2 separate regions of the Homo sapiens genome follow, and region 1 is linked to region 2. Evidence: fine-mapped expression QTL. A gene starts in region 2. The other region holds a variant in brackets. All regions are shown on one strand. Distances are between the middles of the regions.

The links. PIP is the estimated chance that this variant, and not a neighbour inherited with it, causes the effect. A credible set is the group of variants that fine-mapping cannot tell apart.
Region 1: its variant is the best candidate, but not a certain one, in a credible set for the expression of SEC24C in whole blood (TOPMed, PIP 0.69).

What each region holds. Positions count from the first base shown.
Region 1 is chr10:73,784,204-73,789,574 of GRCh38, reverse strand. ZSWIM8 (zinc finger SWIM-type containing 8) reads right to left here and starts at 3,969. Exons shown (of 26, transcript NM_001367799.1): 1 at 3,489-3,969; 2 at 752-905; 3 at 385-479; 4 at 36-208. The coding sequence starts at 3,696. RefSeq lists enhancers at 1-1,017, 3,990-4,209 and a silencer at 3,650-3,869. The variant G/A (reference allele first, on the strand shown) is at 2,119.
Region 2 is chr10:73,741,560-73,746,930 of GRCh38, reverse strand. SEC24C (SEC24 homolog C, COPII component) reads right to left here and starts at 2,559. Exons shown (of 23, transcript NM_198597.3): 1 at 2,494-2,559; 2 at 1-126. The coding sequence starts at 98. LOC124902453 (a long non-coding RNA gene) reads left to right here and starts at 2,666. Exons shown (of 2, transcript XR_007062195.1): 1 at 2,666-2,714; 2 at 3,720-3,967. RefSeq lists enhancers at 2,044-2,610, 2,511-2,940, 2,611-3,178, 2,018-3,217, 4,883-5,371.

The sequences.
Region 1 (5,371 bases), 43 kb before region 2:
TAGGATAGGGCCGGGATAAATTGGGAGGGCCTCACGTTGTGGATGCGGAAGAGACAGAGTGCCACGACGTGGGTGCACCATTTGGCCCCAGCCCCACAGGTACAGCTGCAGGAAGTGACCCGGCAGCGGTCAAACATCACAGCCACGTTGTAGGCCCCTTTAGGAGGGACCATCTGAGGTGGCACCACTGTAGCACTCAGGTGGAACCCTGGGGAGAAATGGGGGCATGGTCAGGGAGTGCTGTCAGGACCTGGGTCTCTGCCCTTGACCCTGGCCCTGCAGTTATTCAGACAACATGCTCCAGCTTCTTGCGGTGTGTTCTTACTTCATAAGCCAGGGGATGGGAGGAGCAGGATGTGCCACATGGCATGATGGCCCACTCACCTATCTGCAATGGGTCCTTCACAGCCCGCATGCGGAAGAGCTGATCCCCTCGCTGAAACTCATCCGCACTGCCATTGGCCAGGCACGAATACAGCCTGGGGGTGAAGAAGAGGACACAGCCACAACTCAGCAAATAACCTTTGGCAGACCCTGTCAGAGACCACAATGCCCTAGGCACTCTCTCCCTAGCCTCATTCCTTCCCCAGGGCGGGGGGTGGGGGGGAGGGAGTGGAATCCCAGGCAATCCCTCCCTTGTCTTCCTCTTACCACTGCCCCAAATACAATGTCTCCTTTGTTCTATGGGAAACCCAGCAGACAGTGTGGAGTATCAGGACCCCGCTCCCCACCATCAGTCCTTTGGCCTCACCGAATGTCCTCTTCATTCTCAGGGAAGCTCCAAAAAGCAATTCGGAGCTGTAGCTGCTCAGGCACTGGTGGGTAAACTTTCTCCACCACTTCAAATGGGATATGAAATGCCACCTGCTTTGCTGACAGCTCCACCAATGGGATCACCAGTCCATCTTTGCAAACAATGGTTGGGATCAGGGGAAAGAGAATAGGAAATGAAAAGGGCCATGGTCTCTTGGCACTCATGCCAGTACAACATCCTGGGCCTCATCTTCACTATGAAAGAAAGAAGAGACCTGGATGAAAGTCCTAGGGATCCCCCTATCAGGATACACTAACCCTTAAGGCTCCATATGGGAAAGGGGAGCTGGATAATCCCCAGCCCACAGCCGGCTACACCTAAGGTCTAGAACAGAAGATACCAGAGATATCTTAAGAAACTCCTGGCCAGACAGGTGCGTTCCAGGACCCTAGCAAGTAACCCTGCTCACATGGCTCAGCACTGAATTTCCCATATTCCATGAGCATTTTAAATTCAAATTACATGGTTAATGTCTCTCCTCTGGCATTCTTGTCTCCGATTGCCTTTTTTTTTTTTTTTTAACCATCCCTTTTACTCTAGATGACTGTAGGCCCCCAGCTAAGGAGACAAGATAGACCAGAGCCCGGAAGGGATCTCAAGAAGCACGAGAGGCCAGACCACTTTTGGCGCGCCTAAATGACAACTTCCCACACTGGAAACCCTCAAGGGGAGAGAGTTATCGCAGGGCACCTAGCTACTGCTGCAACTGGAATCACCTGGACTAAGATAAAGTTACCACTCAAGGTTTTCCACAGTGTTTTAACCAAAAAGTAGTGATAACATGACAAACTACATCTCACAAAATTGCTAGTCACATTAATAGATCAGAAAATCATAGAATTAAAAAGAACCTTTTTAGAAGAGTTAACCCCTTTATTTTATTTTTTTGATTTTTATTTATTTATTTTGAGATGAAGTCTCACTCTGTCACCCAGGCTGGAGTGCAATGGTGCCATCTTGGCTCACCACAACCTCTCCCTCCTGGGTTCAAACTTACCTCCCACCTCAGCCTCCCAAGTAGCTGAGATTACAAGCGGGTGCCAACACACCCAGCGAATCTTTTGTATTTTTAGTAGAGATGGGGTTTCACCATGTTGGCCAAGCTGGTCTCAAACTCCTGACCACAAGTGATCCACCCGACTCGGCCTCCCAAAGTACTGGGATTACAGGCACGAGCCACCGCACCTGGCCAACCCCTTTATTTTACAAGTCAGTGACTGAAGTCGGGGGACTGGGGTAATATGGCATGTTTTCCCAGATTTTAACCTGACCAGGAAGATACCAATATGTTAACAATCTTCATC[G/A]CTATGACTTCAGTTACTTCCCTCAAAGTGAGGGAGCACTAAGCCCCAAGACCACCCACATACTCAAATATGAAAGAAGCCAGAAGGCCACAGAAGACCCACGGTAAAACTGCCTATGATCTGTGTGTGTTTGTGTGTGTGTACACAGGCCATATCCTCTCTCCAACTGAAGCTGAATGCCACCAGTCCGCCACTCCTAAAAAGTGATATATATGCCGGGAGCGGTGGCTCACGCCTGTAATCCCAGCACTTCGGGAGGCCGAGGCGCGCAGATCACCTAAGGTCGGGAGTTCAAGACCAGCCTGACCAACATGGAGAAACCCGGTCTCCACTAAAAATACAAAAATTAGCCGGGCATGGTGACACATGCCTGTAATCCCAGCTACTCAGGAGGCTGAGGCAGGAGAATCGCTTGAACTGGGGAGGCGGAGGTTGCGGTGAGCCGAGATCGTGCCATTGCACTCCAGCCTGGGCAACAAGAGCAAAACTCCGTCTCAAAAAAAAAAAAAAAAAGTGATATATGTAAATTTCTCTCTGTCCCAAAGGAGCACCAGAAATCTCCACAAGCCAGTTTGGAAAACAGGACTCTTGGAAAGGCCTGAGTAGAATCACACAAATTAAACATCTCAACTGCTGAAAAAAGCCAGCTTCCACTGAGGACCAGGACAAAAACTGTGCCATGAGGAAGGCACAGCAGGCAAGTCCCAGCCTTGGCTTCTGACAGATATTTGACATGGCCAGAAGCAAAGTCTATGATCTAAACCTATGAACTATGGACTCTCTGGCAGGCCAGTTCACCTCTATTTTCCTCTGGGTAGGATCCCTTCTTGGTGCTTCTGGGATCAGAGATCATCACCCCGAAGCAAGAAGCTCCCAATGCACTTTGCAATGCGGTGACAAGCCACAAGTGGTCACTTCTTCACAATCAGCCCCCTACCCACATTCTCTTCCTCTACTTTCCGGTATGCCTCAGACTGAACTCACTTAAGTATTCCCAAGTCAAAGACAAGATTCTTCTCCCTTATCCCCTCTCTAAGGCAAAGGAGTGACGAAAGATTTACTTTCTGTCCACAGGATCTCCCTGTCACAGCGCGCGCACGCGCGCGCGCGCACACACACACACACACACCCACACACACACAGGTGTGGAGAAGCCAGCCCACCCCAGGAAGGCCGGAAAAGCGAGTTCTGAAGTCTGTTCTAAGCTTGGGACAGCTCCCAGTCGGGGACAGCTCCCGGCCGGGGACAGCTCCCCTTTCTTCCCCTGGTTGAAGAGAGCTCTTGGTCGGGGACAGCTCCTGGTCCCGGACAGCTCCCGAGCGAGGCCCAAGCAGGGCCTGCCGCTCCTCTTCCCCCCAGCTCACTCTCACCTCGCATTCTGGTACCGCCACTGCCACCTCCGCCACCGCCGCCAGTGGGGGAATTGGGCCCCGCTGACTGTTTGCGCCATCCCCGCCAGTTCTGGCAGAGGCTCTCGGCCTCGGAGATGAAGGAACAGAGTGAATCCTCCTCAAAACGGTCCGAATCCTCGAATGAGAAGCGCTCTCCGTCCTCCCACTCTGCAAACATCAGCTCCATGGGGCCCGCACCCCCCGGGGCCGGGTCCCCCCCCGCGGATCCGGGGCCTGGGCCGCCGGCCGGGGGTTGAGGGGAGGCCCGGGGCCTGAGGGGCGAGCCGGGGCTGGGGGTGGCCGGGGCGCTCAGGGCGGCCGTGCCGGGCGAGAATCTCAGGCCTGGGAAAGAGACGGGACCGGGCCTCGCCCAACAGCGCGGTGCAAGCGGTGATCTTGGCCAGTCTCCGAGACTTAGGGCCGGGACGAAGCGCTCGGCGGCTGGGGCCTCTAGGCGGCTGCGGAGCCGCCTCCCCCATCAGCTGATCTGGACTTCCGGCCGCGCGGGCCACCACCACTTCCGCCCTCGCGCGCTCGGGATCCGGATCGGGTACGGGCGGATGTAGGGGACATTTTTATTTAATGGCTGCATTTGCTTTTTTTCCCTCGAGCCCACCCTCAGACATCATAAGAGGAAGCCAACTCCCAACGTTATACGAAGCAACTACAGATCCCAGCAACAACTCGGAGTCCATAATGTCCCCAAGGCATAAACAGCCGCCATGCATGTTGGGAATTGTAGGCTGTCAGGAGAGGACAGCAACTATTGGATGGAGTTATTGTCTTAACTCTGGATAGGCCCCAGGGCCGCACCACCTTCTGGGAATCGTAGTCCAGAAGTCTGCAATCCAGCCGACCTTTTTATAGGGTCTAACTGGGGAAACATCAGAAAAGAATGCATTTGATTTCAGGAAATGGTTGTACTGTTTGTCCATACGGCCTTTGGATCTAGTAACTCAACCTTTTTTTGTGCCATGGACCCTTTAGCAGTCTAGGTAGGTTTCTGGACCCCCTTCTCAGATCGTTTACAAATGCACAAAATACCAAGAATTACAAAGGAAACCAGTTGTTTAAATACAATTATTAAACTATTAATAGAACAAATCTGTAACGTAATAGTGCTCCTTTATTTACACATTAAATGACAAGATCTAGGAGGAAGCGTAGTAACTATCATAATTTTGAAGCTAGTGATGAGTATAAATGCTTTTTGAGATATTTGTAACCAACTGTAACATGGTATGAAAATACCATGATTTCATATAGGTTTTGATAATGTTACTGTGGTTTGTTTTCCATAGCCCTGACTGAAATGCTAAATTTCAGTTGGAGTTAAAAATATAAATTATCCCCCAAGTTCACAGACGTCTTAACTGGAGTCTATTGACCTAGGTTAAGAACTCCTAAGGCCAGGCGCGGTGGCTTACGCCTGTAATCCTAGCACTTTGGGAGGCTGAGGCGGGCAAATCACGAGGTCAGGAGATCGAGACCATCCTGGCTAACACGGTGAAACCCCGTCTCTACTGAAAATGCAAAGAATTAGCCAGGCGTGGTGGTGGGCGCCTGTAGTCCCAGCTACTCGGGAGGCTGAGGCAGGAGAATGGCGTGAACCCGGGAAACGGAGCTTGCAGTGAGCCAAGATCGTGCCACTGCACTAGCGCGGGCGACAGAGCGAGACTCCATCTCAAAAAAAAAAAAAAAGCTAACTGAATTATGCCTGAAAGGGCAGAGTATACATAAAATGCTATGCAATTTTTCCTAGTATCAGGGGAATCACAAAAGCGAATGCCTTCAGCAACTAGGCAGCTAACTTGAGAGAAGGAAACAGGTAATAAACAAAGTAGACATTTGTTAATTCTGTT
Region 2 (5,371 bases):
CCTGATTGCCCACCATAGCTGGACTGATGATACCCTGGGTAGATGGGCTGGGGCTGCCCAAATGGTGGCACAGGTGGAACTGACTGGTTGACGTTCATTATGAAAGCATTCCCAATTTGATCTCACCTGTGAGAGAGAGGAGAAATTAGTCAAAATGAACTTTCTAAAGAGAGCAACTATTCAGGGCAGGAAGTAGAGATAAAAAGAAATTGACCTTATCAGACAGTGATCAGTTTAATAATCCTCACACTTCCACAGGATCTTAGTAATTTTCTGCCCCAGCCAGCATTCAGATTATCTCCTAAAAGCAAGGATTTTGTTATTCTGACCATCCACCCTTTGTCACTGTCTAAATAGTATAAATTTCAACTTCAGACAGATCCACTGAAATGGAGCAGCAGCCTCCATTCCCCAGTGGTATGATTTCTAGTGTCTAGTCACACAGTCTTGTGGCTGATGAACTACCTTGATGTTACAGGTGAAAGAAACAATGTTCCCACTTTCCATTCATTCACTCTAGCATCCATTCATTCAGCAAACATCGAGTACCCTCTAGTGTGCTGAACAATTGATTTAAAATCAATCAGGCTAAAAATCTAAAACAGATCTGCTAAAATCCTTCCCCCTCAATGACAAAATTTAGGCTGAGTTACAGAAATGACATTCTTTAGCTAAACTGCCATAATACAAATGATACTCCAACCCAAGTCTTTCCACCAAAAGAGTGTATGGACCTTAAAACTGAAGGTTTTTTTTTTTTTTTTTTTTTTTTGAGACGGAGTCTCACTCTGTTGCCAGGCTGGAGTGCAGTGGCGCGATCTCGGCTCACTGCAACCTTCACCTCCTGGGTTCAAACGATTCTCCTGCCTCAGCCTCCCGAGTAGCTGGGATTACAGGCGCGTGCCACCACACCCAGCTAGTTTTTGTATTTTTAGTAGAGACAGGTTTTCACCCTGTTAGCCAGGCTGGTCTCGATCTCCTGACCTCGTGATCCACCCACCTTGGCCTCCCAAAGTGCTGGGATCACAGGTGTGAGCCACCACGCCCGGCCAAAACCGAAGCATTAAAATCAATAAAAGTTGGCCAGGCACAGTGGCTCATGCCTGTAATCCCAGCACTTTGGAAGGCCAAGTCGGGCAGATCACTTGAGGTCAGGAGTTCATGACCAGCCTGGCCAACACGGTGAAACCCAGTCTCTACTAAAAATACAAAAACTAGCCGGGCATGGTGGCACACGCCTGTAATCCCAGCTACTTGGGAGGCTGAGGCAGGAGAAATCGCTTGAACCCGGGAGGCGGAGATTGCAATAAGCCGAGATCGTGCCACTGCACTCCAGCCTGAGCAATAGAGCAAGACGCCCTTTCAAAAAAATAAAAAATAAAGGACACCTGAAAACTCTAGCAAGGTAACAGATTAAAACCAAGTGCAGAACAGGCACCAAAACTTCTTCACATAATCTGAGGAAACAGTTCAAGAATCAGGGGCAAAGTTAGAGTTAGATTTCATGGAAAAAAATCATTCACCTCATCCCTCAAGCAGAAGACTATGAATATTCTAAATTCCAATGCACTTCTCCAACTCTCCTGTTTCTGCTCCCCTTACGATTGTTATGAATCTCAGCCACCATCAAAATTATTACAATCTTGCTCATCAACACAGGGATGAATTAGAGGGCCTTTTCTAAACAGGGTCCTTCCAAGAAAACTATCTCATCACATCTACTTTCAACAGCTGTATCATTCCAATTATCCTGTAGACAGAAGGGGCCCAGAAAGCAGGAGCACTCAGAGTTGCTGCAAAGGGAACAATGGACCTCTCCCCCTTTGCTAGAAGGGCCACCTTGACTATAGAAAAGGAGCTGATCCTGGTCTAAAACTCTTTAAACTCAAAGTTATCTCAATAGCTGTTCTTCCAAACCCTAAACCTTACAGAGGTAGGTCACTGACACTAAGTTTAAAATATGTCCTCTCCCTTTATGTTTCCAAAGCCGGGGGGAGGGGTAAAGAAAGGAGCTTCTTCTCCAGAAAATAATCCCCTCAAACACATTCAAGAGCTTGGAGTCAGACTGAAGTCTCGACTCCATTCTGGGTGGATAGTCGAGGGTGACAACCCAAGGGGGCGGGGCAAGCTTCCTAGAACTCTGAAAGTAGTCAAGCCATGGAGCCTCGGAGAGCCGAGGATCAAAACCGAGAAGCCAAGTCGGCTTCTAGGGCCACGTTAAGAGAGGGGGCTGCTCTGTTAAGCACAGAGACCAAACGTCTTGCACCTTTTAACAGGCTCGGGGCAGGAAGCAGGAGCCGGAATCTGGGCCGGGAGACGAAGGGATGGTCTAGGACCTGCTCCTGGATGGTGGATGCGTGAGGTGAGGGTCTCTACCCAGGCCCCGCCCCCAGGCTCCTCCCTTCTTTCTGAAACCGGACCCCAATCTGGCCAGTAATACCCTGACCTCTCCTTTGCTTTCCTACCCGCCAACCTCCCGATGCCACTCCTCACCCGGCTCCAGATCCAGGTTAGACTTCGTTCCTAACGTCAAGGCTCCCAGGCTCCACTTCCGGTTCCGAGGGGGCCGTCCCGTCACCCCCGGAAGTTCCTCCTCCACGCTTTAGGGCCGGGCCACTTCTTCTGCCACGTCTGCATTTCGGGGACCCGGATGCCGCGCATGCGCCTCTTTCATCTTCCCATCATGGCCGCCGCCTGTGCGCCTCTGCTGAGTCGTATGTATTTCCCTCCTGACATTTTTTTTCAGATGTTCCAGTCACTTTATGGCCTCACCAACAGAAATGAGATTAAAAAGAATTTGTCAAACTATCTTTAATAATGCCCCTTCACTCTGCCTGTGACGTATTAGTGACCTCTGAGCTAGAGTCTTGTAGTCACTTCCTGGTGACCCCTGACCCCGTTGATTTCCGTCCGCTAGGTTGCTCTCACCCATGGCGTTTGCTGGTTATGAGATTTGCGGAACGTGTGGTGGTGGTAAAGGGCACCAACTGTTGTCAACCTGCATGTGGGGGTCTGAGGTCTGGCTCTACAGCTTGTAAAATGGAAATAATAATGCCCAGAGGATGAAATTAGGCCACATAGGCCGCTTGGCATCATAGTAAGCACTCAGTAAAGGTCAATTGTTATTAACCATTTTTATACAGCGCCTTTGTTTAGGTGCAGAGCTTTATCAGAGCCAAAAGATCTCTGCGCTCTGTTGGAAAAGATAGTTCCTGCAGTAATTATTAGTACCCCATTTAATGGCTAAGTAATTATAGCTAACAGTGCTAGGATTTCTTTTTCATATATGACTTCATTTGAACTTTTCAGTACTATTTGTTGATTTCATAATTTTTCGAGCACTGCTGTTGAAACTGCCTTTGCAAAATTACAACTGAGGAAATTATGATAGTGGAAGAAATCAGACTTAACCGACTCCATCTTGCTTCTAACCTTTAAGCTGTCCTTATTCATTCCTGGGTGTAGGTGGAACTAACTTTGGGGAGGAATTCAGTTTATGGTTTGAAACAAAATTGATAATAGCCCCTTCCCGAAAAGACCCCCTTCTTGCCTGGGGACCAGTCTGTCTTTACAGGACTAACAAATTAGCTACAAGATTACAAATTACAGTTTAGGGGACATGCAGCCTCTCGCTCCAAGAGTCTGAACCTCCCCAAATTGCTTTTAGGAATAACATAACTATTGTAAAACCTAAGATTAGTGCTTGAGATGTTTTGCAGACCCTGCACTCATTGGATCAGCTGACTACCTAGACCAGTAACCTGGCTCAATCAGTTCTGCCATTCCACCCAGGAACAGAAAACAGCAAGAAAACCTCACTTTGACTCCCTGTGATTCCGTCTTCAACCTGACCAATCAGCACTCCCCGCTTCCCAAGCTCCTACTCGCCAAATTATCTTTAAGAACTCTGATCCTCAAATGCTCAGGGAGACTAATTTGTGTAATAATAAAACTCTGGTCTCCCACACAGCTGGCTCTGCGTGAATTACTCTTTCTCCATTGCAATTCCCTGGTCTTGATAAATCAGCTTTGTCAAGGCAGCAGGCAGGGTGAACCCACTGAGCGCTGACATTGTGTGCCAAGCCATGTTCTTGGGTCTGGAAATAGAGCAGTGAACAAAAGTGTTTGTTCTCATATTATTGACAGTAAATATCAGTTATTCTGAGGCACAGAGTGGTTTATTCACTGAAAAATTTGCACTTTAGGCTGTGCTGGAAACTATATATTAGGCATTGAGCATGCTTTACTAAACAAGCAGATTGTTCTTGTCCTCTGTTTTGTTTTGTGACAGTCTTGCTCTGTCTCCAGGCCGGAGTGCAGTGGCCCAATCTTGGCTCACTGCAACTTCCGCCTCCTGGTTTCAAGCGATTCTTATGCCTCAGACTCCCGAGTAGCTGGGATTACAGGCATGCGCCACCACCCCAGCTAATCTTTGTATGTTTGGTATAGACAGGGTTTCACTATATTGGCCAGGATGGTCTTGATCTCCTGACGTTGTGATCCGCCCCCCTTGGCCTCCCAAAGTGCTGGGATTACAGGTGTGAGCCACTGCGCCCAGCCTGTTTTGTTTTAGAGACGATTTTGCTATGTTGCTCAGGCTGGGCTCAAGTGGTCCTCCTACCTCAGTAGGAGTAGCTGGGTAGTTGAGTAGCTAGGGCTACAGGTATGTGCCCCCACATCTGGCTAATTTTTTGTAGAGGTGAGGTCTCCCTGTGTTGCCCAGGGTGGTCTCAAATTCCTCCCACCTTAGCCTTCCAAATTGCTGAGATTACAGGTGTGAAGCCACCACACCTGACCTATCAGTTTATAGTCAGTGGTTAAGTGTGATCCTCAGATCAGCAGTATCAGTAACACCTGGAAACTTGCTTGAAATGCAAATTTCAGACCCGCTTTACATAGATAAGAGCCAGAAATTCTGGAGGTGGGGCCCAGCAAGCTATGGTTTAAGGCCCTCCAGGTGATTCCATTGCTGATTGAGAACCACTAGTCTAGATGAATAATTTGCCAAATTCAACTAAGATATGTTGAGCACCTGACCTAAACTGGTCCTCTGCTAAGCATTTTCACATGATTCATCCCACTTGACTCATATCGATATAGGAAAGTAAATATCCTCTGTCTTGCTTAAGGTTGCACCCACTAGGGCCGGGCATGGTGGCTCATGCCTGTAATCCTAGCACTTTGGGAGGCCGAGACAGGCGGATCACCTGAAGTCAGGAGTTTGAGAGCAGCCTGGCCAACCCTGTCTCTGCTAAAAATACAAAAATTAGCTGGATGTCGTGGCACATGCCTGTAATCCCAACTACTCAGGAGGCTGAGGAAGGAGAATCGCTTGAACCCAGGGGACGGAGGTTGCAGTGAACCAAGATTG